Linked DNA regions of Homo sapiens. The protein of the gene in region 1 purifies or fractionates together with the protein of each later gene. This does not show direct contact. Each region holds a gene or a part of one and is shown in the gene's direction. Other genes may lie near its edges.

Region 1 (4,203 bases):
AGACTCCATCTCAAAAAAAAAAAAAAAGTTTCATGAAAAATAACTATATTTTCCAAAATAAAGTAGTCAAAAGAATGGCCTTGTTAGCATATTTTTAGAAATTTCAGGATTTTAAAATAATTATTTATTGGATGATAATGAGATAACAGGTTATAATAGGTGTAACTTAAATTTGCTGTTAAGAAGTCAGTTAAAAGTTCTGAGAACAAATTGAGCTAATCTCTGAGACCACCTATATATTATATTATACCCTAAACTTCTACCTTAGAAATTTCTCAAAGACTCAAGATGACACAGGTACGTGTCACATTTCATGTAGCTTCTGAAAAGTGAGAGTGAAAAGCTTTTAATTTTTGTATATTAGAATAAAAATAGTCTTTTACTTCAGGGACCCCAGGTGTCATATAAGACAGTAATTTCAGAATTACTGTTCGAGATCACTTAGCTTAAATTTCTCAGAAGTCAGACATTTTTCTTTGCATTTATTCTTCAGGGTTTTTTGTTTTTGTTTTCTCGTTTTTTTTTTTTTTTCCAAGGCAGAGTGTCTCTCTGTCACCCAGGCGGGAGTGCAGTAGCGCAATCTCACCGCAACCTATACCTCCCAGGTTCAAGTGATTCTTCTGCCTCAGCCTCTCAAGTAGCTGGGATGCAGACACGCGCCACCACGCCCAGCTAATTTTTTGTATTTTTAGTGGACATGGGGTTTCGCCATGGTGGCCAGGCTGGTCTCGAACTCGAGCTCAAGTGATCCACCGGTCTTGGCCTCCCGAAGTGCTGGGACTGAAGTGCTGGGACTAAAGGCGTGAGCCACCGTGCCCAGCCCTCAGTTGTTATTTAAATAAATCATAATCATTTAAATAAATAGAACCTGCATAAAGAGGTTTGGGAATAGGCACAGCTGTTGGCATGGGAACCCTCAATGGTGACAGCAGGTGGTGGGGTTGGGGGGAGGTTGGCCACCTGGCGAGGGGCCTGTTGGCTGCAGGGAGGGACTGGAGACCTGGGGTCCTTGAGCAGTCCAGTGGCGCTCAGCTAAGAGAGCTGCTGAGTACCATCTCCATTCCCGAGATGCTTGTGAAATGTGTGAGGAGCTATGCATGTGTGGAAAGTCAGATGCAGGATGGCCTTCCTGAAGCTGCAGTAAGTGGAACAGAGGAGGGGTACTGGGTGAGGCCAGAGGAGGGAGTGGCAGGAGGTGACAGAGAAGGCTTCTTGGGGAGGGACTGAGCCACATCTTGAAAGCTAGGAAGCGGGAGAGAGAGCAGGGTCCTGGTAAGGAGAGCCGTGTGAATGCTGGTGGGATGGTACACGTGGCCCAGAGTGGCTGAGAGGGAGCAGCAAGTGAGGTAGCTGGAAATGTACGTTGGGTCTAGGAGTCTTGAATGGCTCGGGTGTCTAAGGTACGAGTGTTCTCTTGGAACTCAGAGCTGTTTCCATATCAGAGACTTGCCAGCAGCCCTCTGTCTTGGGGTGCAGCCTGCCAGCCTGCTCTTTTTTTTTTTTTTTTTTTTTTTGAGACAGGGTCTCACTCTGTTGCCCAGGCTAGAGTGCAGTGGGTATGATCTCAGCTCACTGAAACCTCCCCTCCTGAGCTCAAGCGATTCTCCCATCACAGCCTCCCAGGTAGCTGGGACTCCAGGTGCACACCACCACACCTAGCTAATTTTTGTGTTTTTAGTAGAGATGGGGTTCCACCATGTTGGCCAGCCTGGTCTCGAACTCCTGACCTCAAGTGATCCACCCGCCTTGGCCTCCCAGAGTGCTGGGATTACAGGCGTGAGCCACCGCGCCTGGCCAGCCTGCTCTTATCTGGAGCAACTCCATGGCCCCACGTCCATGTCCTCTGTACCAGTCCACTTCCTCCAGCCTCCTGCCACCTTCCTTAGCCCTCAGAAGCATCTAGCAGCCTCCTTTCCAGTCTGAACACAGCCCTTAGAAGTCTCTCCCAGAAACTGTAATAGATGTGATTAACTATACACAGAATTCCCCCAAACAATTGTTTGGTATTTTTGTCGACTTTATTTCCTTCTGATTATTAAAAGTAATGCATGCATATTGTAAAGTGCAAAAAAGTATTTGGGGGAAAGTCGATAATCCTGCTGCAGTCTCTCTTTACATATTGGCATATTTCCTTACAGTTGTTTTTTTTTTGGGGGGAGGGGATACAATTGGCTATCTACACCCATCTTACCTCGACATCAAAATTTCTCCCTAAGCATTTATTCTGCCTTATGGCTGTATCTTTTTTTTTTTTGAGACGGAGTCTCACTCTGTTGCCCAGGCTGGAGTGCAGTGGCACAATCTCGGCTCACTGCAACCTCCGCCTCCCAGGTTCAAGCAATTCTCCTGCCTCAGCGCCCCCTAATAATAGCTGGGATTACAGGCATGCACCACCATGCCCGGCTAATTTTTGTGTTTTTAGTAGAGGTGGGGTTTCGCCATGTTGGCCAGACTGATCTCAAACTCGACCTCAGGTGATCTACCCGCCTTGGCTTACCAAAGTGCTGGGATTACAGGCATGAGCCACTGCACCCAGCCATGGCTGTATCTTAGTTTGCTTAACCATTTCCTTTTATTTTAAACTTTTCTTTTGAACTAATTTTAGATGTACAGAAGAGTTGCAAAAATATAGCAGAATTCCTTTATATTCCTCACCCCAGAGTATAATTATATAATCAGGAGCAGGAAATCAACATTGGCATAACACTGTTAACTAAACTGCAGGCCTTATTTAAACGTCACCAATATTTTCACTAATGTCCATTTGCTGTTTCCAGGATCTGATATGGGATCCCACACTGTTTAGTTATTTCTCCTTAGTTTGCTGCAATCTGTGGCAGTCTCTCCCTCTTTTCTTGCTAGAATGTTGGAACGCAAAGTGATGTTGCATCCTTTAGAGGTATTCATCATGTCACAGTTTTTTGTTGTTGTTGTTAATTTTGAGACAGGGTCTCACTCAGTGCACAGGCTGGAGGGCAGTGGTGTGATCTCGGCTCTCTGCAGCCTCCACCTCCCAGTTTCAAGCAATTCTCCTGCCTCAGCCTCCCAAGTAGCTGGGATTACAGGCATGAGCCACCACACCTAATTTTTTTTTTTTTTTTTTTTGTATTTTCAGTAGAGACAGGGTTTCACCATGTTGTCCAGGCTAGTCTTGAACTCCTGAGCTCAAGTGATCCACCCACCTCAGCCTCCCAAAGTGTTGGGATTATAGGCGTGAGCCACTGCACTCGGCCATGTTGGAGTATTTTTTTACTGGTGACATTTATCTAGATTGGCTGGTGTCTGCTTGATTTCCACACTGAAAAAAGGTGGGTTTTCTGTTGTTGTTGTTTTACAAAAACTGAATGGGGCCAGGCACGGTGGCTCACACCTATAATCCTAGCATTTTGGGAGGCCGAGGCAGGCAAAGGCCGACGTCGGGAGTTCAAGACCAGCCTAGCCAACATGGTGAAACCCCATCTCCACTAAAAATACAAAAATTAGCCAGGCATGGTGACATGCACCTGTAATTGCAGCTACTCGGGAGGCTGAGACAGGAGAATCGCTTGAACCTGGGAGGTGGAGGCTGCAGTGAGCTGAGATGGAGCCACTGCACTCCAGCCTGGGCAACAGAGTGAGACAATGTCTGGGGAAAAAAAAAATACTGAATGGATAAACTGAAGAAGTTATCTTTCTTTCCCTTTGTAGTTTCAGGAGATACTTTGAGACTATGCAAATCCTGTTTCTCCTTGTACTTTCATCCCCTAATTTTAGCACCCATCTGTAGACCCTGCTTGCAACAATGATGACTGTGATGTTTGACTAATGATTCTCTATTTCCCTCTTGTACATTTATTTATTGGAATTCTTTGTAAGCAAGAGCTGGCCCTGCTTCCCCATTTATTTATGCATTTGGTTATTCATAATCAGATTTTGTTCTGTGGGTTAAAGTTGAATAATATTTTTTGAGGCTCAAATTGTTCTAGCTTTGACCATTTTGGGAGCTCCTTCCGGTTGTCTCCTGTGTTCTTCTGGTAAGCCCCTGCCATTTTTTTTTTTAAGTGTTTCCTTAATTTCCTTTACTACAAAATATTCCAGGCTCATCTTGTAACTTCGCTGCCCCAGCCCTAGAGTCAGGCACTTCTCCACGGAGTCCTGCTTTCCTTTATTGGAGAATGCTGTTTAGAAACCAAGGTCTGGTTGCTAGGTATGTTCATTGCTACA
Region 2 (4,904 bases), on another chromosome or scaffold:
ATTGTCAATAAAACAATCACAAATATATTGGCTGGGTGCGGTGTCTCACGCCTGTAATCCTAGCGCTTTGGGAGGCCAAGGCGGTTGGATCGCTTGAGGTTAGGAGTTCGAGAGCAGCCTGGCCAACATGGTGAAACCCTGTCTCCACTAAAAATAAAAATTAGCCGGGTGTGGTGGCAAGCGCCAGTAATCCCAGCTACTTGGGAAGCTGAGGCAGGAGAATCGCTTGAACCTGGGAGGTGTAGGCTGTAGTGAGCCAAGATCGCACCACTGCACTCCAGCCTGGGTGACACAGTGAGACCCTGTCTCAAAAATAAAAAAAAAGCATATATATGTAAAGCAGATATATATATATGTGTGTGTGTGTGTGTGTGCGTGTGTATCTATATCTATCTATCTATCTAATTGCCACCGTGCCAAGTGATTCAAAGGAAGGTAGCTGATGTTATGAGAACATATAAACGGGTGGGGCGTGGGAGAAGGGGCTGAGAACACACTGGAGGGGAATGCAGAGACCACCTGGATGTCTGCTGCAATTAAACTGACAAAGTATGACAATTTGGGTTACAGCGGGAGCATGGCAGCTGGAGAAATGGACTGACTTGAGATGTCCCAGATGTTCAGATCTCCTTTTTCTCTCAGGGCACAGGCAAAAGGCAAACCCAAAGAGGTGACTTTGAGCCAGGAGGACCCCTTACTTTGATCTTAACAGAAACGGGGGTTTCCTCTGGTGCGTTATGTGTATCATTTATTGAACCACTACTATGTACTAGGACCGACCTTGTCACATTTAAAGTTCACAACTCTGGCCTGGCGCGGTGGCTCATGCCTGTAATCCCAGCACTTTGGGAGGCCGAGGCGGGCGGATCACGAAGTCAGGAGATCGAGACCATCCTGGCTAAGACGGTGAAACTCCGTCTCTACTAAAAATACAAAAAATTAGCCGGGCGTGGTGGCGAGAGCCTGTAGTCTCAGCTACTCAGGAGGCTGAGGCAGGAGAATCGCTTGAACCCAGGTTGCGGAGGTTACAGTGAGCCAAGATCGTGCCATTGCACTCCAGCCTAGGCGACAGAGTGAGACTCCGTCTCAAAAACAAAACAAAACAAAAAAAAAAGAAAAAAAAAGTTCACAACTCTGAGGTAGGTGTAATTATCCCCATTTCATGATGAGTCTCATAAAGTTTAGGTGATGTGCCCAGAATCACACAGGGTTGGAATCAGGATTAGGGCCCTGATCGGGCTGCATTCAAAGACCAGTTTGCTTCAATACATCATACTACGGTCCAAGACTTCTGCTATCCTGAACCCACTGTTCCTTCCTCTAGTCTAGTTTTCAAATTCGCAGGGACAAATATGGCCCTGAAGGCTCCATGAGCAGACGAGAAGGCTGGACTTCGCAACTGGGTCACCTTAGATCCGGAACTAGAGAATGACACCGTTGTTTCCGGGAGGAAAAAGAAAAAGCGCTTGACCCGGAAGCTGCGTGTCCCATCCCCGCGCCTGCTTCTCTGACTGGGGTGAGGCCGCAGCGGACTGCCCTTTCCCAAGATGGCGTCGAAGATAGGTTCGAGACGGTGGATGTTGCAGCTGATCATGCAGTTGGGTTCGGTGCTGCTCACACGCTGCCCCTTTTGGGGCTGCTTCAGCCAGCTCATGCTGTACGCTGAGAGGGCTGAGGCACGCCGGTGAGCAGGCCTACGCAGCCGCTAAACGCGGCAGGGGGCGGTGATGTGGGCAAGAAATTGGGGGCTAGAAGTCGGGACCCTTGAACTGGGAGGAATTGGGACCTCCCTGGGAGGGGTTCTGGTCTGGGTGTCGGACCAAATCTGGTAGGGCGGTCCTGCCCATGGGAGGGGAGTCTGGTTTGGGGGAGCAGTGGAGCCTGTGGGAACTCAAGGGGTCTCAAGCTTCTTCCCCCACCGCTTCATTCTGTCCTCGTTGCTTCCCCACTCCCGGCTCGCAGGAAGCCCGACATCCCAGTGCCTTACCTGTATTTCGACATGGGGGCAGCCGTGCTGTGCGCTAGTTTCATGTCCTTTGGCGTGAAGCGGCGCTGGTTCGCGCTGGGGGCCGCACTCCAATTGGCCATTAGCACCTACGCCGCCTACATCGGGGGCTACGTCCACTACGGGGACTGGCTGAAGGTGAGCGCCTCGGCCCCAAAAGGGTCTTCCCTCTGGGTGACGGGGAATCAGAGGCCAATGCCCAGGGCTGTTGGTGGGCGATGAATGGTGCTGGCCAGCTGCACAGTGTGAAGCCTGGGAGGTTCGAACCCCTTGGCTTATGGAGATTACAGAGCGCAGAAATGGATCTTAGAGACCACACAAACTTCCTCTTCAAAGTGTGGAAACTGAGGTCTAGAGATGGGAAACAGACTTTCCCAAAGCCACAATACAGGATACTGGTGGGACCAGAACCCCGGTCACCTGGTTCCCAGAATCTTTTAAACTGTTAGTTTAGTAATCTCAGACTCATGGGGTACAAAGGACCTTGGAGAGTACCTAGTTTTCATAAAATAAATTTTATGAAAATGTAATTACTGTTAGTATAGCATTTAAGCCAGAACCTGTGCCAGGCCCTGCAGGCTGGAGATAAGGTTGGACAAAGGCACTGTCCTTGAGGAAGAGACTGTCAGACCCTTAGGGGAGGAAGATGTGTGAACAGCTACAGGGCAGCAAGATCAATGTTTTTGTGGCATAGATCCCATGCCATGTAGAATAAAGAACACCAAGATTAGAGTCTACAGATCTGAGAGTGGGGAAGGGAGAAACACATTGTGTCTGGGTTCTGCCACTTACTGGCAGGTAGGACCTGCCAGTTTTCTTTTTTGTTGTTGTTTTTTGAAACAGAGTCTCTCTCCGTCGCCCAGGCTGGAGTGCAGTGACGCTGTCTCAACTCACTGCAACCTCCGCCTTCCAGGTTCAAACGATTCTCCTGCCTCAGTCTCCCAAGTAGTTGGGATTACAGGCGCCCTTCCCCACGCCCGACTAATTTTTGTATTTTCAGTAGACAGGGTTTCCTCATGTTGGCCAGGCTAGTCTCAAACTCCTGACCTCAGGGTGATCCACCTGCCTCGGCCTCCCAAAGTGCTGGGATTACAGGCGTGAGCCACTGCGCCTGGCCAGACCTGACAGTTTTCTTAACCCTCTGGGCCTCAGTTTCTACTTCTATATATATATAAAAAGAATGATCTGTCTCTGTTGCACCTGCCCACCAAGCTTGGAAATGTAAGAGGGTTCATCAGATGGAATGGGATGTGTAGAGAGGGGTGGTTCTACACTCTGGGAAGCCAGGAGAGATGTGGCGGCTGCAGTTCTTGACTGGGGTCCCCTTACCCCGGCCTAGGTCCGTATGTACTCGCGCACAGTTGCCATCATCGGCGGCTTTCTTGTGTTGGCCAGCGGTGCTGGGGAGCTGTACCGCCGGAAACCTCGCAGCCGCTCCCTGCAGTCCACCGGCCAGGTGTTCCTGGGTATCTACCTCATCTGTGTGGTATGTTGGGGGACTGTTGGTTGGAGGTGCCTGGCTGGGAGTGAACTGTGAGTCTAGGCATGGCAGAACCCCAGGAAGGTAGACACAGAACGAGGCCCTGAGTGCAGTTCCTGATGGCCCAGTTCCCTGGGAATTGCCCTGGCCAGCTTCTAGGCCTCAGGGGCCCTCCAAATGCCTGTTGAGAGGCCCTTCCTCCAACAGTGTTGCCACGAGGTAGACTGGCCATTAAATTTCAACCCTGAGAGCCAGGAGAACAAGATGGGGTGATTCTCTCATGGCTCCAGCCCCCAAAGGACTAGAAGGGGATAAAGGAGAGGTTTGGTGGGGGTCAGGCCCCAGCTGGGACTCTGCCCCCTAGAGCTGATGAGAGCTCTAGGGTAGCCACTTATGGTTCTCCCTGGTGCTAGGGGAGGCCAGGGTGACTGGAGACATGGACAGGCGCCAGGCCATTAGGTCTTATCTTAATTACCGAGTATATCTCTGTACAGCTCTCTGTGTGGGCTCCCATATTCAGAGGTGGGAGCTCTAGTCTGACTGTGGAAATACACTTCCTTCATAGCCCCTAGGGTGAGGGGAGACATGGGCCCTAATCTCCTGGGGCTCCATAGTCCGAGGGGGAGACAAAGGCCCTACTTTCAGAGGTTCCCCAGTCCAAGAGGGGAGTCAGAAGCCCATCTGCAGGGACTCATTTGCAGGTGCCATCTCAGGGGTGGTTTACCCCAGACAGGCTTCTGAGCCTGTTGGAGAGTCTTAGAGGATGTTATGTCTCCAGGCCTACTCACTGCAGCACAGCAAGGAGGACCGGCTGGCGTATCTGAACCATCTCCCAGGAGGGGAGCTGATGATCCAGCTGTTCTTCGTGCTGTATGGCATCCTGGCCCTGGCCTTTCTGTCAGGCTACTACGTGACCCTCGCTGCCCAGATCCTGGCTGTACTGCTGCCCCCTGTCATGCTGCTCATTGATGGCAATGTTGCTTACTGGCACAACACGCGGCGTGTTGAGTTCTGGAACCAGATGAAGCTCCTTGGAGAGAGTGTGGGCATCTTCGGAACTGCTGTCATCCTGGCCACTGATGGCTGAGTTTTATGGCAAGAGGCTGAGATGGGCACAGGGAGCCACTGAGGGTCACCCTGCCTTCCTCCTTGCTGGCCCAGCTGCTGTTTATTTATGCTTTTTGGTCTGTTTGTTTGATCTTTTGCTTTTTTAAAATTGTTTTTTGCAGTTAAGAGGCAGCTCATTTGTCCAAATTTCTGGGCTCAGCGCTTGGGAGGGCAGGAGCCCTGGCACTAATGCTGTACAGGTTTTTTTCCTGTTAGGAGAGCTGAGGCCAGCTGCCCACTGAGTCTCCTGTCCCTGAGAAGGGAGTATGGCAGGGCTGGGATGCGGCTACTGAGAGTGGGAGAGTGGGAGAC
Region 3 (4,203 bases), on another chromosome or scaffold:
GAAGAAAAGTATTGAATGTGTCTAATTTTGAAACACCAGGCCGCTGAGGATCTCACAGCACTTGTTAGGTCTTGGGGACTTCATCAATTTCAAAATGTGCTGGGCTGTAAGCTGGCAGTCCATTTGCAGTGCTTCATCTTGGGTTTAGCAAAGATGTTTTTAATTTCTCAGGTCGCTGGACAAGAACGCTGAGGACTTCTTTCTGCTGCCCCATCTCAATATAAAGGGCTTTGTCAAATGCCATTTTACAAGTTCACTAGCATGTTTTAGTCTCCACTACAATGGGGCCCAAACTTTTGGTGTTAGGGGAGGAAGGGCCAGGTTTCTATACCAGAGCAAAGGTCATTAAGTTTGGAGAAACACCTGCTGTGAAACCAGTGAAGTGGTTTGCAGCTCCCTGGGGCTTGTGCTGTGAGAAGTGTATTTCCATCTGGCAGCTGTGGGGAGGCCTCATGAGGAAGGCATTAGTAAGTTTATGGGCAGAGATTGGGAACTCGACTATTCTGTAGCAGCTCTTCCCCTTTAGAAAGCAATCACCAAGGAGCAGCCTCTAATGTCACACAATCACAGGGCGTTGCCTCAAGGAGGGGGCTGTCCCATCATTATCATGACTCAGCCCATCATCTTAGTTTTGAAAGTGGAACTCGCAACACTGCTGTCCCCAGTTGTGTACTTGTCTTTGTCTTCACCCTGGAAGTGGACTACTTACCTGTGAGCTGTACTGGCCATCTCCAGATGTGGGACTCGGACACAGCACGGACAGGCTTTTGTGTAGGGGTGTGGCTTCTCTTCCGTTGTTTGGGATTAGCCCTGCATTTAATTAGGGTCTTTGTAAGTGTTCTAGAGGCTTTTCTTAGAAATCCTTCTCACACCTAGCTTTGCTTTGCTTTTTCTTTTCTTTTCTTTTTTCTTGGTAACTCACAGAACAACACCTAGCTTTTCTATCCTTAAGCAAAACCCACACATTCACAGAATTTCCCCAAGATTTCTTACATTTCTCTCTTAGGTGCTTCTCTCTTGTCCCTCTGCCTTTTACTTTTTTCCTTCTCTATCCCCTTGTCTTAATGAACTAGGGCTGCCATGACAAAGTACCACAGACTGCGTGGCTTTAAACAACAGAACATATTGTCCGTCAGTTCTGGAGGCCAGAAGTGCACAATGAAGCTATGGCCAGGGCCGTGTTCTCTCTGAAGGCTCGAGGAGAGGCCCCTTCCTACCTCTTCTAGTTGCTAATGGTTGCTGGCATCCTGGCGTTCCTTGACTTGCAGCTGCAGTACTGCGGTCACATGGCTGTGTTCTCTCTGTCTTCACGTCATCATCCCCCTTGCGCTCTTCACGTCATCATCTCCCTGCACGTGTCTGCCTCAATGCAAGTTTCCCCCACTTTTTTTTTTTTTTAGTGAGATGAAGTCTCACTCTATCACCCAGGCTGGAGTACAGTGGTGTGATCTCGGCTCACTGCAGCCTCCACCTCCCGGGTTCAAGAGACTCCCGCCTCAGCCTCCCGAGTAGCTGAGATTACAGGCACACCCTACCACACCCGACTAAGTTTTTGTATATTTAGTAGAGACGGGGTTTCGCCATGTTGGCCAGGCTGGTCTCAAACTCCTGACCTCAGATGATCTGCCCCCCTTCAGCCTCCCAAAGTGCTGAGATTACAAGCATGAGCCACTGCACCTGACCAAGTTTCCCCTTTTTATAAGGACACCTGTCATATAGGATCAGGGCCTGCCCTAATGACCTCATTTTAACTCAGTTTTCTTCATGAACACCCTGTTTCCAAATAAGGACAGATTCTCAGGTACCACTGGTCAGGACATTAACATATCTATTTTGGGGGGACAGTTCAACTTAAAACACCCCTCAATTCAGTCTACAATCGAAGGTTGGTTCCATTCTTGAATTCCCCAAATGGACACAAAACCCTTTACGTGAGTCACTGATTGGTGCCAGAGTTTGTGTTCTCCATGCCTCACGACAGCCCACTGTTCACCTACTGATGGGCCCTCCTGTGCCATTAGCGTTCAGTTACCACGTAAGGAGGCCCCCCACTCTTCTCTGCTTCTGCCAGGGAGAGGAGGTTGGGGAGAAGCAGGAGGCACACTTGAGCATAGCCTTGAGCCTCCCGGGTGCAGAGCCTGGTCCCCGCCTCCCTTCCTGGAGTCACCGTCAGCTGGGGTGGGGGCCAGGCTACTTCCTGCAGCGGCTTGACAAGCAAAATGCAATGTGAGGTGATAAACATGGAATCTGAGACAGGGCCGTGGAAAACGGTTTTTTGTTGAGCGTCGGGGCTGCCCTGTTAGTATTCCTTTTATAATTTTGTGACTGCCATAAAACTGTTTAGGGGTCCCACAGCATGGAGATCTTTTGTATTAAACAGCTTTCATAAACCCTGAATGAGTTCCAGATTCTGAGACTCCGGAACTTCAGTCCCCCTCCTTTTCTTTCAGTGGTTATGTGTTTTTTTTGGGAGTTTTTTTTCTCCCTTTGTTGAGGTATAATTTACATAAAGTAAAATGCTGTTCTCTTAAGAGTACAGTTTGGTAAGTTTTGACAAATATGTACAAAAAATCCCATGTAACTACCAAACAGATTCAGACATAGAATATCTCCATTTCCCCAGAAAGTTCTTTTGGGACCCTTTCTAGTCAACTACCCCACTCCACCTCAGAGACAAAGAGAAATCAGAAGAAATCTGATTTCTATCACCATGGATCAGTATTTCTTTTAAAAGTAATTTTATATCAATGAAATGCAGCATGTGCGCTCTTGCATTTGGCATATTTCCTTCAATATAAAGTTTTTGAGATTCTTCCATGGTTTCGCATGGATCAGTGATTTTTATTATCTTTTCTTGCTAAGTATTCCTTTGTGTGGATGGCCCACGTTTTGTTTATTCTTTCTTCTGTTGATGGTCAGTTTTGGCTATTATGAATCAAACTGCTACAGATGCTTTTGTGTAAGTGTTTTTGTGAACATGTGTGTTCATTTCTGTTGGATATATACCTAGGGGTGCAATTGCTGGGTCGTAGGTTAGGTGTTTGTTTATTTTATTAGGTGCTTGATTATGGCCCTCTTAAAAGGGGGGAATCAATCCCATTTGTAAGCCTCCTGTTCTCTGCTTAGAAGATTTTTCCGAAGCTTGTTAGCTATAGAACTGCATTACTTTGTTTTAGAAGAAAATACTATTATGGGCACTGGTTCTCACTTTGGATTTGTGTAATTTTCTGCTGGTCCTGGGCCCCTGGCTTTTGTTAAAGGTCTTTTCTTCAGGACCTGCTCAACTGAGATTCCCTTAACATGCAGGGTCACTACTGACTTTGAGTCCAAACCAGCAGGCCTATTCATGCTGATGAAAAAAGGGAACAGACTTGCTTGCTAGCCAGATAAGCTTTTAGTTGTCCAGCAAGAGATCTGTACATTTATTCATAATTGTTCTTTTTTGTGTGTGTGATAAGGTCTTGTTCTGTCACCCAGGCTGGAGTGCAGTGGCACTATCATGGCTCACTGCAGCTCTGACCTCCCCAGACTCAGGTGATCCTCCCACCTCAACCTCCCGAGTAGCTGGGACTACAGGCATGCCCACCACACACAGCTAACTTTTGTATTTTTGGTAGACACGGGGTTTCATCATGTTGCCCAGGCTGGTCTCTAACCTCTGGGCTCTAGCAGTCTGCTGGCCTTGGGCCTCCCAAAGTGCTAGGATTACAGGTGTGAGCCACCGTGCCCAGCCTGTCATTTTGTTTTTTGCTGATTATTTAGTCAATGCCATAGAATGTTGGGAATCCTTCTAGATTATTAAGACCCTGGGCTCTAGCATGCAGTCTGCCCATTGCTGATACCAGCAGACCTCATAGTCTGGTTCTGGTTCTCTGGGTACTCAGCAGCACTGAGGGTACATGTGGGCCTTCTGATTGGGCTCTGGAGTCTCAGTGAGTTGTTTCCTTGTAGGTCCTGTTTTGCTGCGTTCCTACTGTCTCTATGTTCTCCTGCTTGCCATCAATGGAGTGACAGAGTGTTTCACATTTGCTGCCATGAGCAAAGAGGAGGTCGACAGGTGGGTAACCTAGCAGGTACACCTTTAATCATGGCCTTCAGCCAAAATGAAATAACTTGTCAAGCTTTTTGCTTTTCGTTCTGAACATGCATTTACAGATGGCTGTTTTAGAGGCAACACTTAGTCCACCAGTGTGGTGCTCCCCT
Region 4 (4,203 bases), on another chromosome or scaffold:
GACGGCCAGGATGTTTGGGCTGTTTCTCGCCCTTCTGCTCCTACCGCACTCACACCCCTGCATTCGCACCTTTCATTGCCTTTTGAATATTGCTTTGATTTTTCTTGTTTGCTTTTAGTTGATTTTAAAGACCTTAATAACTTACTATTTTGGTTATCTGTAGTCAGATGAGGACTGGAGTTCACCTCTGAGATGTCGGACGTGTTCACATTTTGACTCTTTCTGAACTGGGGCCATGGAAGGTTTGGGTGGCATGGCACGGTCTGACTTTGGAGCCGCCCCTTCTCTTGGCCACGCCCTGTGCTGGTGCCTGGTTCCCAATGCCATCAAATTGAGTGGCTTGTAGGTCGGAAAGTGACAGCCCCAGCCACTCACTCTTACATGGAAAGGTTAAGGGGTGCAGGGCTCCAGCCGGTTTCCTCCCGGTGCCCTGGCACTGGCATGCCCTTGTTGGCAGTCATCCTCCTCCCGGGTTTTTCACACAACCTGCAAGTGTAGATGAAGGTGTGTGTACACACTTCTCCTCTCGACACAGACAGTATTTATGGCGTGATCCTGTGGCACCCCCTGCCTTCCACAGCCGCGTCTTCCATCGGATTCCCCAGCAGAGCCTTCTCTGTGTCTGGCATGGGTGCTGACCTCCCTAGCACTCTGCCCAGCCTTCTGGAGCTCCGTGGGGATATGGGCCACACACACAGGGGTGTCTGAGCAGGGGGGCAGGTGCTGTCCCTGCCCAGGCCCCTCGGCCCCCAGGGGAGTGTGGCGCATTGGGGGCCCGAGTGTCATGTGTTCACACTTTTCCTTCTCTACCCACCTCTCGGTGGTGCCTTTCTTCTCTTAGGGTTTGTTCTCATATTTTCTCTACCCACTTCTCCTCAGCGTTGCCTTTCTTCTCTTAGGGTTTGTTCTCATGTTTTGCCCCGTGTTCAGTTTGTCTCTAAACATTGTCACGGTCTTTCTTGCCCATTTGGAGATTGTCTTGGTGTTACTCAAGCAGCCAGCCCCGGAACCTGGCCTGTGCAGAGCCTGCAAGGGCCCGAGTGCTGACCGGCCTCAGTGACACTGCCTCTGCGGGCCCGTATATGTTGACCTGGGCTGGTCTTGTTTCTTTGTTTGAGACAGAGTCTTGCTCTGTCACACAGGCTGGAGTGCAGTGGCGCGATTTCGGCTTGAAACAACCTCCGCCTCCCTGGTTCAAGCAATTCTTGTGCCTCAGCCACCCAAGTAGCTGGGACTACAGGTGCACACCACTATACCTGGCTAATTTTTGTATTTTTAGTAGAGATGGGATCGCCATGTTGGCCAGGCTGGTCTCGAACTTCTGACCTCAGGTGATCCGCCCACCTCGGCCTCCCAAAGTGCTGGGATTACAGGCGTGAGCCACCGCGCCCGGCCCCTGGGGTGTTTTTAAGTGAAGAGTTGGTGCCCTGTTCTGAGGCCCTTGGGGTCCTCGCTGTGGGGGTTGCTGACCCCCAAGCCTCTCTGGTGTTTTGTTTACTAACGCCGTCATCGGGTCACGCAGCACAGCAACAAACAGACCTTGTAGAACTTGAGACACTGTCTTCTCTGAGAGCTATTCTGGTGATGAGATGGGCGGACCTGCTGTGGGGCCAGCAGGGTTGGGGGGCTGCCCATCTGCTGAACCTGGCCTTGGTTGCAGTGGCTGGACCTGCACCTGCATCAGGAGATCCCCACATCGCTGCTCATCCTGTCCCGGGCCATGTACCTCCCGGACACCCTCTCTCCAGCCGACCAGCTCAAGTCCACACTGCAGACCCTCCCAGAGATTGTGGTACGTGCTGTCGGAGACCCCTTTTACCTCATCTCTTCATAGGTGGCTCCGCTCTTCTGGGGTGGGGGGAGGTGTGCAAGCGCACTCATTCCTCAACCATGGGCGAGGAGCCTGCCTCCCACCCCCTCGCGAGTGCCCCCACCCAGCCACCTGTCCCCTTCCTTCCATCCCTCCTCACCAGCCCCTTGCCTGCCATCCCCCGTGTGGCACAGTTGCCAGTGGTCCCGACCTGGCCACGTGTTGGCTGCTGTGGATCTGGGCCGCGGCCCTTGGAGCTGTGTCAGCAGCGCCTATGCTCCTTCCCACATGTCAGGAGTCATCGGGCGAGCGCAGAGGGCGGCCCAGGGGCCTCCCAGCAATTGCGGGCAGCACCTCGGCAGTGCCTTCTGTCCTGTGTGTGTGAAGCCCAGGTGGTGACGGGGCAGGGGACACAGGACACAGGACAGAGGTGAGGGGCAGCAGGGGCCTCTGGTGGCTTCTGGGCTCACCCACAGATGTACCCTCTTCTGAAGGCAAAGGAAGCACAGGTGAAAGTGGCCGAGGTGGAGGGCGAGCAGGTGGACAACAAGGCCAAGCTGGAGGCCACGCTGCAGGAGGAGGCGGCCATCCAGCAGGAGCACCGTGAGAAGGAGCTGCAGAAGCGCTCGGAGGTGGCGGTAAGCGGTGGTCCTGCTCCGTGCCGCGTGGGGCTGTCCTGAGCCAGCCTCCCTAGAAACCCCCGCACGCCCACAGTCTTGGCCTCCCGCATGCTTGCCCTGCAGCTCTGTCCTGCATGTTTATTTCCTCCTGGAGTGGTCAGGGAGGCAGGGTGCCCGGGTGTGAGGGCTGCAACTCTGACATGGGGACTCCCCGATGGCCACAGTGGTGCTCATGGGAGATATACCTTAGCCGTCTCAGAGGGGCAAGCTTAGCATATGGCAGTGCCCACCCTCTCCTCAGGGACTTGCTGTGAGGGGCGCTGGCAGAGGAGCTGCAGGCTCCCCCAGCCTCTGGGCTCCTCTTCAACGCGGGCCCTGTGGTCCTCTTGGGTCACATGCATGGTGCCCACCCACAGGCTCAGCCTCCTGCTCTGCAAGTGACAGGGCAGCTTGGGGGAGTCTTGGGGAGACCAGAGATGGATAAGGTGCTCTAGCCTGTTCTGGAGAGGGCCCCAGGTGACCTGGCAGCTGCATGGAGCCTCCCTAGGGACCTTCTGTGGCAGGTGTGCTGCCCAATGTCACCTGCAGGCCTGCTCCCAGTGTGGCCTCTGCCATATGTTCTGAGCTTCGGGGAGCAAGAAGACTGCTTCTGTGTGATGGCGGGCGCTGGGCTGGTGTCGCCTTGCCTTTCAGAAGGATTTTGAGCCCGAACGTGTGGTAGCTGCTCCCCAAAGGCCGGGGACCGAGCCACAGCCAGAAATGCCTGACACAGTCCTGCAGTCAGAGACCTTGAAGGACACTGCCCCGGTGCTGGAGGGCTTGAAGGTAATGAGGCAGGTTCTGGGGCCCTGGAGGCTGAGGAGGGCATGGCCTGGCTTTGTGGACAGTTGTGGGGCAGGGATGGGGACAGGTTAGCTGGGGCATCTATAGCCCTCAGTGAGAGGAGATGGTGCAAGGGGTTGAGGATGAGGCCACTGGGCCCCTAGGAGGCTTGGTGGTTAGGAAAAGAGTGAGTCCGGCCGGGCTCCGCACTGTGCCTGGGTGCACAGCAGCTGACGCTGCCGTGAACTTAGCACCCTGGCCCACAGTGTGGCAGGTAGAGATGCCAGTCGGCAGGTTTCAGGGCCCTTTGCCAGCTTGCCCAGACAGTGAAGGGGTGTGGAAGCCAATGTGGCCCCTCAAGGTAGAGCCTCCTCCACAGGCCCAACCTGCTGTCACCTCCTGTGGGGTGATCTGGGCTTGGAGCATCTTCAGACTCCCCATGCGAGCCTGTGAGGTGCAGCCTCCAGGCGCCTGTGCTGCCTACCTGGGGCGCCTCCTGGTACCTTCCATCTTGAACTCGCGGGCTGAAGTGCAGTGGCGCCATCTCGGCTCAGTGCAGTCTCAGCCTCCCAGGTTCAAGCAACTCTTCTGCCTCAGCCTCCCAATATCTGGGAGTACAGGCGTGCACCACCAGACCCAGCAAATTTTTGTATTTTTAGTAGACAGGGGGTTTCACCATGTTAGCCAGGCTGGTCTCAAACCCCTGACCTCAAGTGATCTTCCCGCCTCAGCCTCCCAAAGTGCTAGGATTACAGGTGTGAGCCACCACACCCAGCCATAAAAAAAAAATTTGGCCAGGCGCAGTGGCTCACGCCTGTAATCCCAGCATTTTGGGAGGCCGAGGTGGGCGGATCACGGGGTCAGGAGATCGAGACCATCCTGGCTAACATGGTGAAACCCCATTTCTACTAAAAATACAAAAAATTAGCCAGACATGGTGGCATGCACCTG
Region 5 (4,203 bases), on another chromosome or scaffold:
TGCACCCCACCTATGTGTTTACTTTTTCTAATCTCTGTTGAGAGTGCTCATTGATGTGCAAGTTTTAAATTTTTATGAAGTCCAATTTGTCTATGTTTTCCTTTTTTCATTTTAATTTTTGTGAGTACATACTAGGTGTATATATTCATGGGGTACATGAGATATTTTGATACAGGCATACAGTCCATAATAATCACATCAGAGTAAATAGGGTATTCATCACCTCAAGCATTTCTTCTTTCGTGTTGCAAACAATCCAATTATGTTCCTTTAGTTATTTTAAAATGTACAATAAATTATTGTTGACTGTAGTCACCCTGTTGTGCTACCAAATACTAGATCTTATTCATTCTATTTAATTATATTTTCATACCCATTAACCAACCCCACTTCTTGCTCATCCCCAGCTACCCTTCCCAGGTTCTGGCAACCATTATTCTACTCTCTGTCTCCATGAATTCAATTTTTAAATTTTTTAGTTCCCTCAAATAAGTGAGAACATGCAAAGTTTGTCTCTCTCTGCTTGGCTTACTTCACTTAACATAATGACCTCCATTCCATCCATGGTGTTGGAAACAACAGTTCTGTTTAAGGATGAATAGTATTCTACCATGTATATGTACCATATTTTCTTTTTTCTTTTTTGAGACAAGGTCTCACTCTGTCACCCAGGTTGAGTGCAGTGGTGTGATCATGACTCACTGCAGCCTTGGTCTTGCGGGCTCAAGCGATCCTCTCATGTCAGCCTCCTGAGTAGCTGGGACCACAGGTGTGAGCCACCATGCCCAGCTAATTTTTGTACTTTTTGGAGAGACAGGGTTTTGCCATGTTACCCAGGCTGATCTCCAGCTCCTGGGCTCAAGTGATCTGCCTGCCTTGGCCTCCCAAAGTGCTGGGATTACAGACATGGTCCACTGCACCCAGCCCACATTTTCTTTATCCATTCGTCTGTTGATGGACACTTAGGTTGCTTCCAAATCATGGCTATTGTGAATAGTGCTGTGATAAGCATGGGATTAAAGGTATCTCTTTGATATACGGATTTCCTTTCTTTTGGTATATATCTAATAGTGGAATTGCTGGATCATATGGTACTTCTATTTTTAGTTTTTTGTGGGGCCTCCAAACTGTTCTCCATAACGGTTGTAATAATTTACATTTTTCACCAACAGTGTACGAAGGTTTCCTTTTCATCCTTGCCAGCGTTTGTTATTGCCTATCTTTTGGATAAAAGCCATTTTAATTGGGATGAGATGATATCCTATTGTAGTTTTGATTTGCATTTCTCTGATGATCAGTGATGTTGAGCACCTTTTCATGTACCTGTTTGCCATTTGTATGTCTTCTTTTGAGAAATGCCTATTGACATCTCGTGACCATTTTTAAATGAGATCGTTAGATTTTTTTTCCTGTAGAGTTGCTTGAGCTCTTTATATAATCTGGTTATTAATTCCTTGTCAGATGGATGGTTTGCACATATTTTCTCCTGTTCTGTGGGTTGTCTCTTCACTTTGGTAATCGTTTCCTTTGTGGTGCAGAAGCTTTTTAACTTGATATGATCCTGTTTGTCTATTTTTTCTTTGGTTGCCTGTGCTTATGGGGTATTTTTCAAGAAATCTTTGCTCAGTCCAATGTCCTGGAGAGTTTCCCCAATGTTTTCTTGTAGGAGAGTTATAGTTTGAGGTCTTAGATTTAAGTCTTTAATGCATTTTGATTTTATTTTTGTATATGATGAGAGAGAGAGGTCTAGCTTCATTCTTTTGCGTATGGATATCCAGTATTCCCAGCATCAGTTATCAAAGAGACTGCCCTTTCTCCAACTTATGTTCTTGGCACCTTTGTTGAAAATGAGTTCACTGTAGATGTATGGATTTGTTTGTGGGTTCTCTATTCTGTTCCATTGGTCTATGTGTCTGTTTTTATGCCAGTACCATGCCATTTTAGTTACTATAGCTCTTATAATTTGAAGTCAAGTAATGTGATTGTTCCAGTTTTGTTCATTATACTCAGGATAACTTTGGCTATTCTGGGTCTTTTATGGCTCCATAGAAATTTGAGGATTGTTTTTTCTGTTTCTGTGAAGAATGCCATTGGTATTTTGATAGGGATTGCATTGAATCTGTAGATTGCTTTGGGTAATATGGGCATGTTAACAATATTGATTCTTCCAATCCACCCATGAACATGGAAAATTTTCTCATTGTTTGTACCCTTTTCAATTTATTTCATTAGTGTTTTATAGCCTTTTTTTTTTTTTTCTTTGAGACAGACACTTGCCCTGTCACTCAAGCTGGAGTGCAGTGGTACAATCTTGGCTCACTGAAACCTCCACCTCCTAGGTTCAAGCAATTCTCATGCCTCAGCCTCCCAAGTAGCTGGGATTACAGGCATGTGCCACCATGCCCGGCTAATTTTTGTATTTTTAGTAGAGACAGGGTTTCACTATATTGGCCAGGCTGGTCTTGAACTCCTGGTCTCAAGTGATCTGCCCACCTCGGCCTCCCAAAGTGCTGGGATTACAGGCATGAGCCACTGTGCCCAGCCAGTGTATTATAGTTTTCGATGTAGAAATCTTTCACTTCTTTGGGTAAATTAATTCCTAGGTATTTAATTTTATTTCCAGATATTGTAAACGGGATTACTTTCTTGATTTCTTTTTCAGATTGTTCACTGTTGGCATGTAGAAATGCCACTGATTTTTATATATTGATATTGTATCCTGCAACTGTACTGAATTTATTTATCAGTTCCAATAGTCTTTTGGTGGAGTCTTTAGGTTTTTTCGAATACAGATCATATCATCTGCAAACAAGAAAAATTTAACTTCTTTTTTTGCAGTTCAGATGCTCTTTATTTCTTTCTTTTGTCTGAGTGCTCTAGCTAGGACTTCTAATACTATATTGAATAACAGTGGTGAAAGTGGGCATCCTTGTCATAGTCTAGATCATAGAGGAAAGGCTTTCAGTTTTTCCCCATTCAGTGTGATACTAGGGCTGCGGGTCTGTTGTGTATGGCTTTTATTGTGTTGACGTATGTTCCTTCTGTAGCATTTTGTGAGGGTTTTATCATGAAGGAATGTTGATTTTATCCAATGCTTTTTCAGCATCTATTGAAATGTTCATGTTTGTATGGCTTTTGTCTTTTCTTTGAGATGGAGTCTCTCTCTGTCACCCAGGCTAGAGTGCAGTGGTGTGACCCCGGCTACTGCAACCTCCACCTCCAGGTTCAAGCAATTCTCTTCAGCCTCCCAAGTAGCTGGAATTACAGGCACCCACCACCACGCCTGGCTAATTTTTGTATTTTTAGTAGAGGCGGGGTTTTGCCATGTTGACCAGGCTAGTCTCGAACTCCTGACTTCAGGTGATCTGCCTGCCTTGGCCTCCCAAAGTACTGGGATTACAGTCATGAGCCACCATGCCAGGCCTGTCCTTCATTTTGTCAATATGATGTATCACATCGATTGATTTATGTATGTTGAACCATCCTTGCATCCCTGGGATAAATCCCACTTGGTCAAAGATCTTTTTAATATGTTGTTGAATTTGATTTGTAGGTATTTCTTTGAGGATTTTTGCATTAATGTTCATCAGGGATATTGACTTGTAGTTTTCTTTTTTGATGTGTCTTTGTCTGGTTTTGGTATCAGGGTAATACTAGCCTTGTAGAATGAGTTTGGAAGTATTCCCTCTTCCTCTATTTTTTGAATCATTTGAGTAGGATTGGTATTTATTTTTCTCTTAAACGTTTGGTAAAATTCAGCAATGAAGTCATTGAGTCTTGGGCTGTTCATTGCTGGCAGAGTTTTTATTACAGCTTTGATATCATTACTTTTTATTATGGCTTTGTTTTCATTACTTGTTGATCTGTTCAGGTTTTGGATTTCTTCATGTTACAATATTGGTAGGTTGTACATGTCTAGGAATTATCTATTTCTCTAGGTTTTCCAACTTATTGGCATATAGTTGTTCATAGTAGCCTCTAATAATCTTTTGAATTTTTGTGGTATTGGTTGTAATGTCTCCTTTTTCATTTCTGATTTTATTTATTTGAGTCTCCTCTCTTCTTTTCTTAGTCTGGCTAAAGGTTTGTCGGCTTTGTTTATCTTTTCAAAAAAGCAACTTTTCATATCCCTAATCTTTTGTATTCCTTCACTGCAATTTCATTTATTTTTGCTCCAATCTTTATTATTTTTTTCTTCTACTA
Region 6 (4,203 bases), on another chromosome or scaffold:
TAAGTCCATCTGTGCTTTTTTTTTTTTTTTGAGACGGAGTCTCACTCTGTCGCCCAGGCTGGAGTGCAGTGGCGCAATCTTAACTCATTGCAACCTCGCCTCCCCAGTTCAAGCAATTCTCCTGCCTCAGCCTCCCGAGTAGCTGGGACTACAGGCGCCCACCACCATGCCCAGCTAATTTTTGTATTTTAGTAGAGATGGGGTTTCACCATGTTGGCCAGGATGGTCTTGATCTCTTGACCTCGTGATCTGCCCACCTCGGCCTCCCAAAGTGCTGGGATTACAGGTGTGAGCCACCGTGCCCTGCCCCATCTGTGCTTTTGCTCACAGTTTGGAGAAAAATTGTTAGGGGATTATATCTCTACCTGAGTAGTTAGCTGAGGAGATTCCCACCCACCCTTAGGGGTTTTTGGAAATCTCTGAGGGTGATCTTGGCTGTCCAGTGAGAGCATGATGCTGGCATTGAATGGGTGTCAGGGAACCAGTTCAGTCCTTCCTGCCCAATGAAGGATTGTCCTACCCCCAAATGCCAGTCATGATCCCATGACACAACACTCTTCTAGGGCTGGAAGGGATCTTCTATCCCAACTCCCATGAACCAGGAACTCGCAGAGAAGCCTTTCTTCTGAAACACTTCTCAGACTTTTCCCCGTATTCGTTTTTTTTTTTTTGAAAGAGTCTCACTGTGTCACCCAGGCTGGAGTGCAGTGGCATGATCTTGGCTCACTGCAACCTCTGCCTCCCTGGTTCAAGCGCTTCTTGTGCCTCAGCCACCAGAGTAGCTGGGATTACAGGCGTGCACCACCAGGCATGGCTAATTTTTAGTAGAGACGGGGTTTTGCCATGTTGGCCAGGCCTCAACTGATCTGCCTGCCTTGGCCTCCCAAAGTGCTGGAATTACAGGTATGAGCCACCACGCCTGGCCTCCCCATATTCTTGAACTCTTACTGGATTCCAGTTTCACAACCCTGCTGGTGACATTTGGCTGCTGGTACTAAATCCATACATGAGGTGAATGCTTCTGTTTTGTATTTGTGCATTCATCCCTCTGCCTAGTTTAGATTTCCAGTTTAGCAATTTCACCTAATACCATTGAGCTTGCAGACTTGTACTGGCTTCACCCACTCCTGTGGCACCATTTTACCCTCGTCTGTGTTGCTGAGGTGGTAGGTCACCAGTTGAACTGGAAAATCTTTTTGTGATGCAGCAACTTTTGGTTAAACGTTTTTTCTGGGTTTTCATCTGTGGCAGTTACATTGCACATCTGGTTGCTCCAGGTTGGATTGTGGGCATGTGGGGATAGGCTTAGAACCTAGATTTATTTAAAACTTAGGGCAGACACACTGAAGTATTAATAGTGCATGTTTTTCAGTGGGGGACTATGGGCAATATTTTCCTCCTTTCCTTTAGGTTTTTTTGTGGCGTTTTATTTTGTCATGTCACGATGTATCTTGGCTTTGGCTGTTGTAACAGAATACTACAGATTGAGTGGCTTAAACAAACATTTCTCACAGTTCTATGGTCTGAAAAGTCTAATATCAAGGTTCCAGCAGATCTGGTGTCTGATGAGGGCTTGTTCTTAATTTGAACATAGCCGTCTTCTCACTGTGTCCTCATATGGCAGAGAGTGAGCGAGCTCTCTGGCCTCTTCTTCTAAGGGACTAATCCCATCACAATGGCCCTATCCTCATGACCTCATCTACACCTGATTACTCCCAAAGGCCCCATCTCCTAACACCATCACCTTGGGGGGATAAAATTCAGTCCATAGCGCTGTGTGTAATCAAAAGAATATGGTTGTTGCAGTCAGGAAGACCTGGGTTCACATCCTAGCACTGCCACTTAGTAGCTGTGTGACTGGCCACATTATGTCATCTCTAAGTGTCACTTCCCATAGGGAACTGGGGTGCTGCTGTCTGCTTCATAGGGTTGTGGGATCCTTAGATGAAACAGCACATGCAAGTTTCCTTCCTTTCATCATTTTTTTTTTTTTTTTGAGACGGAGTCTCACTCTGTTGCCCAGGCTAGAGTACAGTGGCACAATCTCAGGTCACTGCAAGCTCTGCCTCCTGGGTTCACGCCATTCTCCTGCCTCAGCCTCCTGAGTAGCTGGGACTACAGGCACCCACCACTACGCCCGGCTAATTTTTTTTTTTTTTTGTATTTTTAGTAGAGACAGGGTTTCACCATGTTAGCCAGGATGGTCTCGATCTCCTGACTTCGTGATCCGCCCGCCTCGGCCTCCCAGAGTGCTGGGATTACAGTTGTGAGCCACGGCGCCCGGCCCTTTCATCATTTTTTTAGACATGGAGGTCTCTCTTTGTTTCCCAAGCTGGAATGCAGTGGCTGTTCACAGATGCAGTCATAGCACTGTAGCCTAGAACACATGGGCTCAAGTGATCCTCCCACCTCAGTCTCCTAAGTAGCTGTAATCACAGGTTCATGCCCTCACGCCCGGCTCCTTACCCTGCTTTATCACCAAAGTGCTGTCTGTGTGGTGAGTGCCAAAGGAATGAAGAAACTGAGGGGTAACTGTCTGCTTGTGTGCTTTCAGTGATCTGCAGAATGCAGCCGCCGGTTCCTTCGCCTCTGCCTTTGCTGCACTGGTGCTCTGCCCCACGGAGCTCGTGAAGTGCCGGCTGCAGACCATGTATGAGATGGAGACATCAGGGAAGATAGCCAAGAGCCAGAAGTAAGCACCACTTGGGCACAAACGTCAGGTCTCTATTGCCCTAGTGTATTGGATGATTTTTCATTTTACATTGTACTAAAGTGGCAGATGTGGAAGCCAATTTATCTACTCCAAAATATTGTTTCTAGAATGCTTTCCCCTATCAGAGATTTTCTGAAAGGATTGGCTGTGATGGGACCCACCACCCACTGCATAAAAAGTCTTAGACAGATATTTAATACCCCAGAACTGGAGAAGCCAGGAGCTTAACACCCTTTTTGGCCTCTTGGAAACATAAGGCATGATCTTCAGCCATTTTTGGAGGTACATAATGGGTGGCTTTTGAACTTTGCCTTAGACCTGAGCCTTCATAAGTGCCAATTTGGATTCTGAGATGAATATTTGATCCCCACTTCAGGTTTCGTATGGGTATTCAGGCTGATTGACCCAGATCCTAGAGGTAACTATTCTTACCCCACTTATCCCCAGTCCTTCAAGTGTACCTGCAGATGGCCCAAGTTCTGAGAACATTAATCAATACTTTTATAAGCATAGCTACTCTTCAGTGATTAAATCACTCTCTAGCTCACTCTTGAAAACACATTCTCATTATCCTTTGAGAGTACTGTTTCATACACAATTTGATTTACTTGAATTGGAAAGCAATTTATTATCCTTATTAATTGCAAAACTTGCTTACTTATCTTGACATCTGGCTGAGTTCTGACCAAGGATATTGCTGTGGTTAACTCAAAGCCTATAAATCTGCTGGGAAAAAGCAGTAGATAAATTGACCATTTTCAAGGATCAGTCCCCACTCAGTGAGAATGGGGTTTGGAAAAGTGCCCTATTTTCTGCACCCTTGAGATTCATTACAGCCAACTTGAATCTAATATTCATTGCCTAGAAGTCCAAGAGTGTAAGTCTTTAAAACTTTTTATTGAAATAATACACATAGTATCATGAATGCACATTGAAGTCACAGTATGCAGCTCTATAAATAGTGACACAATTTATGTGCCTTTGTAACCTGTGTCCAGATTAACAAATAGAACATTAACAACACCCAGAAAGCTGCCCTCATGTTCCTTGGAAGTAATTCAAGGTAATTAAAAGATAGTAATAGTTATATCCAAAGGACTTAGGCAGATCAACACCTTGAATTATCAGTTGACTTTGTATTTGAGGTCTAGCAGTGTTCACACAAGGCATGGTATGGTAGCTTGGGGCTAAGACTCGGATTGGAAGGGAGGTTAATTGTGTTGAGCTGGATTACTTTGTTACATTCCATGTAGCAGTGCTGCAGGAAGGGCTGGCTGATGGGGAATACCTGACAGTGTCTTCTGAAGCTCTCAGAAGGAAAATAGTTTTTAAATGTCTGTGGCCTTTATTACCTTGGGACTTGATCCTTCATCTGTCCAAGCCAAGTCTCCTTCTTGCTGAGAACAAAGTGAGGAGAGAGGGATTCACTAAGTTGCACTGAGTATGTGATTTCTTGGCCTGTTCTTAGCAGGGATAAACCTGCCCTGGTT
Region 7 (4,203 bases), on another chromosome or scaffold:
AAAGCAAGTCTAAATGCTTTTTTATATTTCTGAAAAATAAAGTTACTTGAAATAGAGTTGCAAGAATAGCACAGAGATTCTGGGAATACACTTCACTCAGATTCACCAATTAACATTTTGGCACATTTGCTTTTTATATGTGTATGTGTGGATGAATATGTGTGTGTGCTTTACATCAGTGTATCTATGCATGTATAAATATTTTTCCCAGAAGCACATGAGAGCAAGTTGTAGACATCAGGCCCCTTTACCCCTAAGTACTTCAGTGTATGTTTTCCTAAGAACAAAAGGCATTCTTTTATATAAACCACTATACAACGATCAAATTTAGGAAAAATTTTTTTTTTTTTTTTTAGACGGAGTCTCGCTCTGTCACCCAGGCTGGCGTGCAGTGGCGTGATCTCAGCTCACTGCAACCTGCGCCTGCCGGTTTCAAGCGATTCTCCTGCCTCAGCCTTCCAAGTAGCTGGGACTACAGGTGCCTGCCACTACGCCCTGCTAATTTTTGTAGTTTTAGTAGAAACAGGGTTTCACCATATTGGCCAGGCTGGTCTCGAACTCCTGAACTTGTGATCCTCCCGCCTCTGCCTCCCAAAGTGCTGCAATTACAGGTGTGAGCTTCCGCGCCCGGCCAGGAAATTTAACGTTATATCACGTTGTGCCCATTTTCCCAATATTGTCCTTTGTAGTAATTTTTCCCCTCTGATTCAGGACCCAGTCCAAGATCCATGTATCACATTTAGTTGTCATGACTCTTTAGTCTCTTAATATCGAACAGTTTCTTGGCCTTTCTTTGTCTTCCATGAACTTGCTATTTTTAAAGAGCATGGGCAAGTCATTATATATAATGTCCCTCAAATTTTGATTTGTCTGATATTTCCTCCTTTTTTTTTTTTTTTTTTGAGTTGGAGTTTTCCCTTTTGTTGCCCAGGCTGGAGTGCAATGGTGCAATCACGGCTCACCGCAACCTCTGCTTCCCGGATTCAAGCGATTCTCCTGCCTCAGCCTCCTGAGTAGCTGGGATTACAGGCGTGCGCCACCATGCCTGGCTAATTTTTTTTGTATTTTTAGTAGACACGGGGTTTCTCCACGTTGGTCAGGCTGGTCTCGAACTCCCAACCTCAGGTGATCTGCCCACCTCAGCATCCCAAAGTGCTGGGATTACAGGCATGAGCCACCTCACCCGAGCCTTGATGTTCCCTCTTAACTAAAAGCAGGTTATGCATTTTTGACAGGAAAACTACTTAAGCGATCTTGTGTCCTTTATAATACTTCACATTAGGAGTTGCATGATGTCAGCTTGTCCCTTTACTAGTAAAGTAAACTTTGGTTAAAGTGGTATCCACCAGGTTTTTCCACTGTGAAGTTACCATTCTCCCTTTGTAATCCATAAATAATCTATGGGCAGATACTTGGATACTAAGTAAATGTTCTTTTTCTAATTAAACTGGTACCCAGCAGTTTGAATATCAATGGATGATTCCAGCCTGAATCAATTATTATTATGATAGTTGCAAAATGGCAGAAAAATTTTAACTTTAATGACAGTTTTAGACCCTGAGCTGTCTGCTTAAAGAGTAGTGCTTCTTACTGTTGTGTGGTACAAACATTTTTTTTTAATACAGATTTTAAATTCTTTACAGTGCACTTCAGAAGGAGATCACAACGCGTTATCAACTGGATCCAAAATTTATCACGAGTATTTTGGTATGATTTTTTAATAAGTGAGCTTTAGCAGACAGTTGGTGAGACAGTATGTTTTGAGTATAAGGACAGCCAGTGATTTAAGTGGTGGTTAAATGCACTTACTGGAGCAACAGTTTCGGATCTGGGTACTTAATGTGAATTTCCTGTTACTGTTTTTTTTTGTTTGTTTGTTTCTTTAAGACAGACTATTGCTCTCTTCCCCAGGCTGGAGTGTCATGGCAAGATCTCGGCTCAATGTAACCTCTGCTTCCAAGGTTCAAGCAATTCTCATGCCTCAGCCTCCCGAGGAGCTGGGACTACAGGCACATGTCACCATGCCCAGCTAATTTTTGTATTTTTAGTGTCGGCGGGGTTTTGCTATGTTGGCCAGGCTGGTCTCGAACTCCTGGCCTCAAGTGATCTGTCTGCCTCAGCCTCTCAAAGTGTTGGGATTACAGGTGTGAGCCACCACGCCCGGCCCATTGTTTTTGGTTATCGTTGTTTTCCTTCCATAGCCTTTGAAAAGCCTAGTTTTACTCCTAAAGAAAACGTAGTATCTCTTAGTATCCCTAAAACATTTGAGTTTTCTTATCCTGGAGAACCTGTCCCTGTGGATGAGCTCCAGTAACATCTTAAAGTAAATATGCACCAAAATTACTTTTGGTAAATACAGTTTTGGTGCATATTTACTTTAGGATGTTACTGGAGCTCCCATCTTCTCTGCTTTAAGGAACTAGTCCTTAACTAGTTAGCCCTTACTTAACTCTTTAAACTCTGGTTTAAAAAATAAAAAGAAGCTTGAATAGTGTGACGGAACTCTTTAAAGGTAGTATGAATTTATTCAAGAGTCTTTAGAAAGAATGTACTTTTTTTACTCTTTAAAAACAAAATGATGGCCGGGCACGGTGGCTCACGCCTGTAATCCCAGCACTTTGGGAGGCCGAGGCAGGTGGATCACAAGATCAGGAGATCGAGACCATCGTGGCTAACACAGTGAAACCCTGTCTCTACTAAAAACATACAAAATAGCCGAATGTGGTGGTGGGCACCTGTAGTCCCAGCTACTCGGGAGGCTTGAGGCAGGAGTATGGCGTGAACCTGAGAGGCGGAGCTTGCAGTCAGCTGAGATTGTGCCACTGCACTCCAGCCTGGGCGACACAGCAAGACTCCGTCTCAAAAACAAAACAAAAAAACAACATGGAAAATGCATGCTGCGTTTTACCTTGCATTTCTTTTTCTTTTCTTTTTTTTTTTTTTTTTTTGAGACGGAGTTTCGCTCTTGTTGCCCAGGCTGGAGTGCAATGGCGCCATCTCGGCTCACCACGACTTTTGCCTCCCAGGTTCAAGCGATTCTCCTGCCTCAGCTTCCCTGGTAGCTGGGATTACAGGCAATGTGTCACCACGCCTGGCTAATTTTGTATTTTTAGTAGAGATGGGGTTTCTCCATGTTGGTCAGGCTGGTCTTGAACTCCGGACCTCAGGTGATCCGCCCACCTCAGCCTCCCAAAGTGCTGGGATTACAGGCATGAGCCACTGCACCCGGCCTTACCTTTCATTTCTTTAGTAATTTAGTTTTAAAGTAGTTCTAATCCAAATAAAATACTTTCATATCTTATTTAAAAATCTTTTCAATATAAGAAAATCCTCTTAGGAAAAATTGTACATTGTAATTATGTTTGGTTGCATGGCTGTCTTATTTCCCTTTGATAGATTTAGAGACCTCCCAAAGATTTCTTGATTAGTGATAAACTTAGTTATCCACTAATGGAAAGGAACAGTGATGCATGTAGATTATAGAAAATCAAACACTGAATATTCTGATTCTCAATTAATGTTATTTTCAAATGATTTTGATTATATTAGTATTAATTTGTATTATTCAATTTTTTTCCCCAGTATGAGAATAATGTTATCACTATTGATCTGGTTCAAAATTCTTCTCAAAAAACTCAGAATGATGTGGACATAGCTGATGTGGCTTATTATTTTGAAAAAGATGTGAGTATCATCTTCTTTATTCCTGTGTTCAGGAATGTAGTCTATCATGCCTCAATGAATTAAATATATTTCATCACCTTTTTATCCACTTACAGATCAACCAAATGGTTCGCTGCTGCCGTTAATTTTGTCCTCCCTGTCACTCACATGCATCTTGCTTGTTTGTATATTTATGCCTCTTATCAAATTGTTCTGCCTAAAATATCTCCCCTCTTTCTTATAATTCTTATTTATTATCTACTTGGTGGTTACTTAGTTTGTGCATATATGCTCCCCTATGATATTTATAATTTACACAAATAAAAGTCTGTTAAAAAAGACTGTAACTGATATGATTAAAATATTTTGTTGAAACTTTAATATATTATAGTGAGGTATTTTCTGCTGAAATATGAGGTTTGCTTCAAAATAATCTGGGCGGGGGTGAAAGGATGAAAGGAAGAAAAGATGAAGTAAGAGAGGCTATGTGTTGTTGGCCTTGCATCTGGGTGATAGGTACATGGGCATCATTGCACTACT

The links.
Region 2: the proteins of SLC39A14 (region 1) and TMEM101 purify together in Homo sapiens (affinity purification with mass spectrometry; one large-scale study listed by BioGRID and IntAct). This does not show direct contact.
Region 3: the proteins of SLC39A14 (region 1) and RFT1 purify together in Homo sapiens (affinity purification with mass spectrometry; one large-scale study listed by BioGRID and IntAct). This does not show direct contact.
Region 4: the proteins of SLC39A14 (region 1) and LETM1 purify together in Homo sapiens (affinity purification with mass spectrometry; one large-scale study listed by BioGRID and IntAct). This does not show direct contact.
Region 5: the proteins of SLC39A14 (region 1) and C3orf33 purify together in Homo sapiens (affinity purification with mass spectrometry; one large-scale study listed by BioGRID and IntAct). This does not show direct contact.
Region 6: the proteins of SLC39A14 (region 1) and SLC25A15 purify together in Homo sapiens (affinity purification with mass spectrometry; one large-scale study listed by BioGRID and IntAct). This does not show direct contact.
Region 7: the proteins of SLC39A14 (region 1) and EPCAM purify together in Homo sapiens (affinity purification with mass spectrometry; one large-scale study listed by BioGRID and IntAct). This does not show direct contact.

The regions. Positions count from the first base shown.
Region 1 is NC_000008.11:22,373,250-22,377,452, forward strand, and holds part of SLC39A14 (metal cation symporter ZIP14 isoform a precursor), read left to right. Parts: intron 1-4,203. UniProt on the Homo sapiens protein: Electroneutral transporter of the plasma membrane mediating the cellular uptake of the divalent metal cations zinc, manganese and iron that are important for tissue homeostasis, metabolism, development and immunity.
Region 2 is NC_000017.11:44,011,596-44,016,499, reverse strand, and holds the start of TMEM101 (transmembrane protein 101), read left to right. Parts: upstream 1-1,536; 5' UTR 1,537-1,547; coding exon 1,548-1,684; intron 1,685-1,962; coding exon 1,963-2,143; intron 2,144-3,344; coding exon 3,345-3,491; intron 3,492-4,263; coding exon 4,264-4,572; 3' UTR 4,573-4,904. UniProt on the Homo sapiens protein: May activate NF-kappa-B signaling pathways.
Region 3 is NC_000003.12:53,099,235-53,103,437, reverse strand, and holds part of RFT1 (man(5)GlcNAc(2)-PP-dolichol translocation protein RFT1), read left to right. Parts: intron 1-171; coding exon of another isoform or gene 172-224; exon of another isoform or gene 225-243; intron 244-3,951; coding exon 3,952-4,057; intron 4,058-4,203.
Region 4 is NC_000004.12:1,821,233-1,825,435, reverse strand, and holds part of LETM1 (mitochondrial proton/calcium exchanger protein precursor), read left to right. Parts: intron 1-1,660; coding exon 1,661-1,792; intron 1,793-2,304; coding exon 2,305-2,448; intron 2,449-3,123; coding exon 3,124-3,255; intron 3,256-4,203. UniProt on the Homo sapiens protein: Plays an important role in maintenance of mitochondrial morphology and in mediating either calcium or potassium/proton antiport. Mediates proton-dependent calcium efflux from mitochondrion.
Region 5 is NC_000003.12:155,796,130-155,800,332, reverse strand, and holds part of C3orf33 (protein C3orf33), read left to right. Parts: intron 1-4,203.
Region 6 is NC_000013.11:40,802,564-40,806,766, forward strand, and holds part of SLC25A15 (mitochondrial ornithine transporter 1), read left to right. Parts: intron 1-2,554; coding exon 2,555-2,692; intron 2,693-4,203.
Region 7 is NC_000002.12:47,375,371-47,379,573, forward strand, and holds part of EPCAM (epithelial cell adhesion molecule precursor), read left to right. Parts: intron 1-1,643; coding exon 1,644-1,707; intron 1,708-2,304; exon of another isoform or gene 2,305-2,400; intron 2,401-3,582; coding exon 3,583-3,684; intron 3,685-4,203.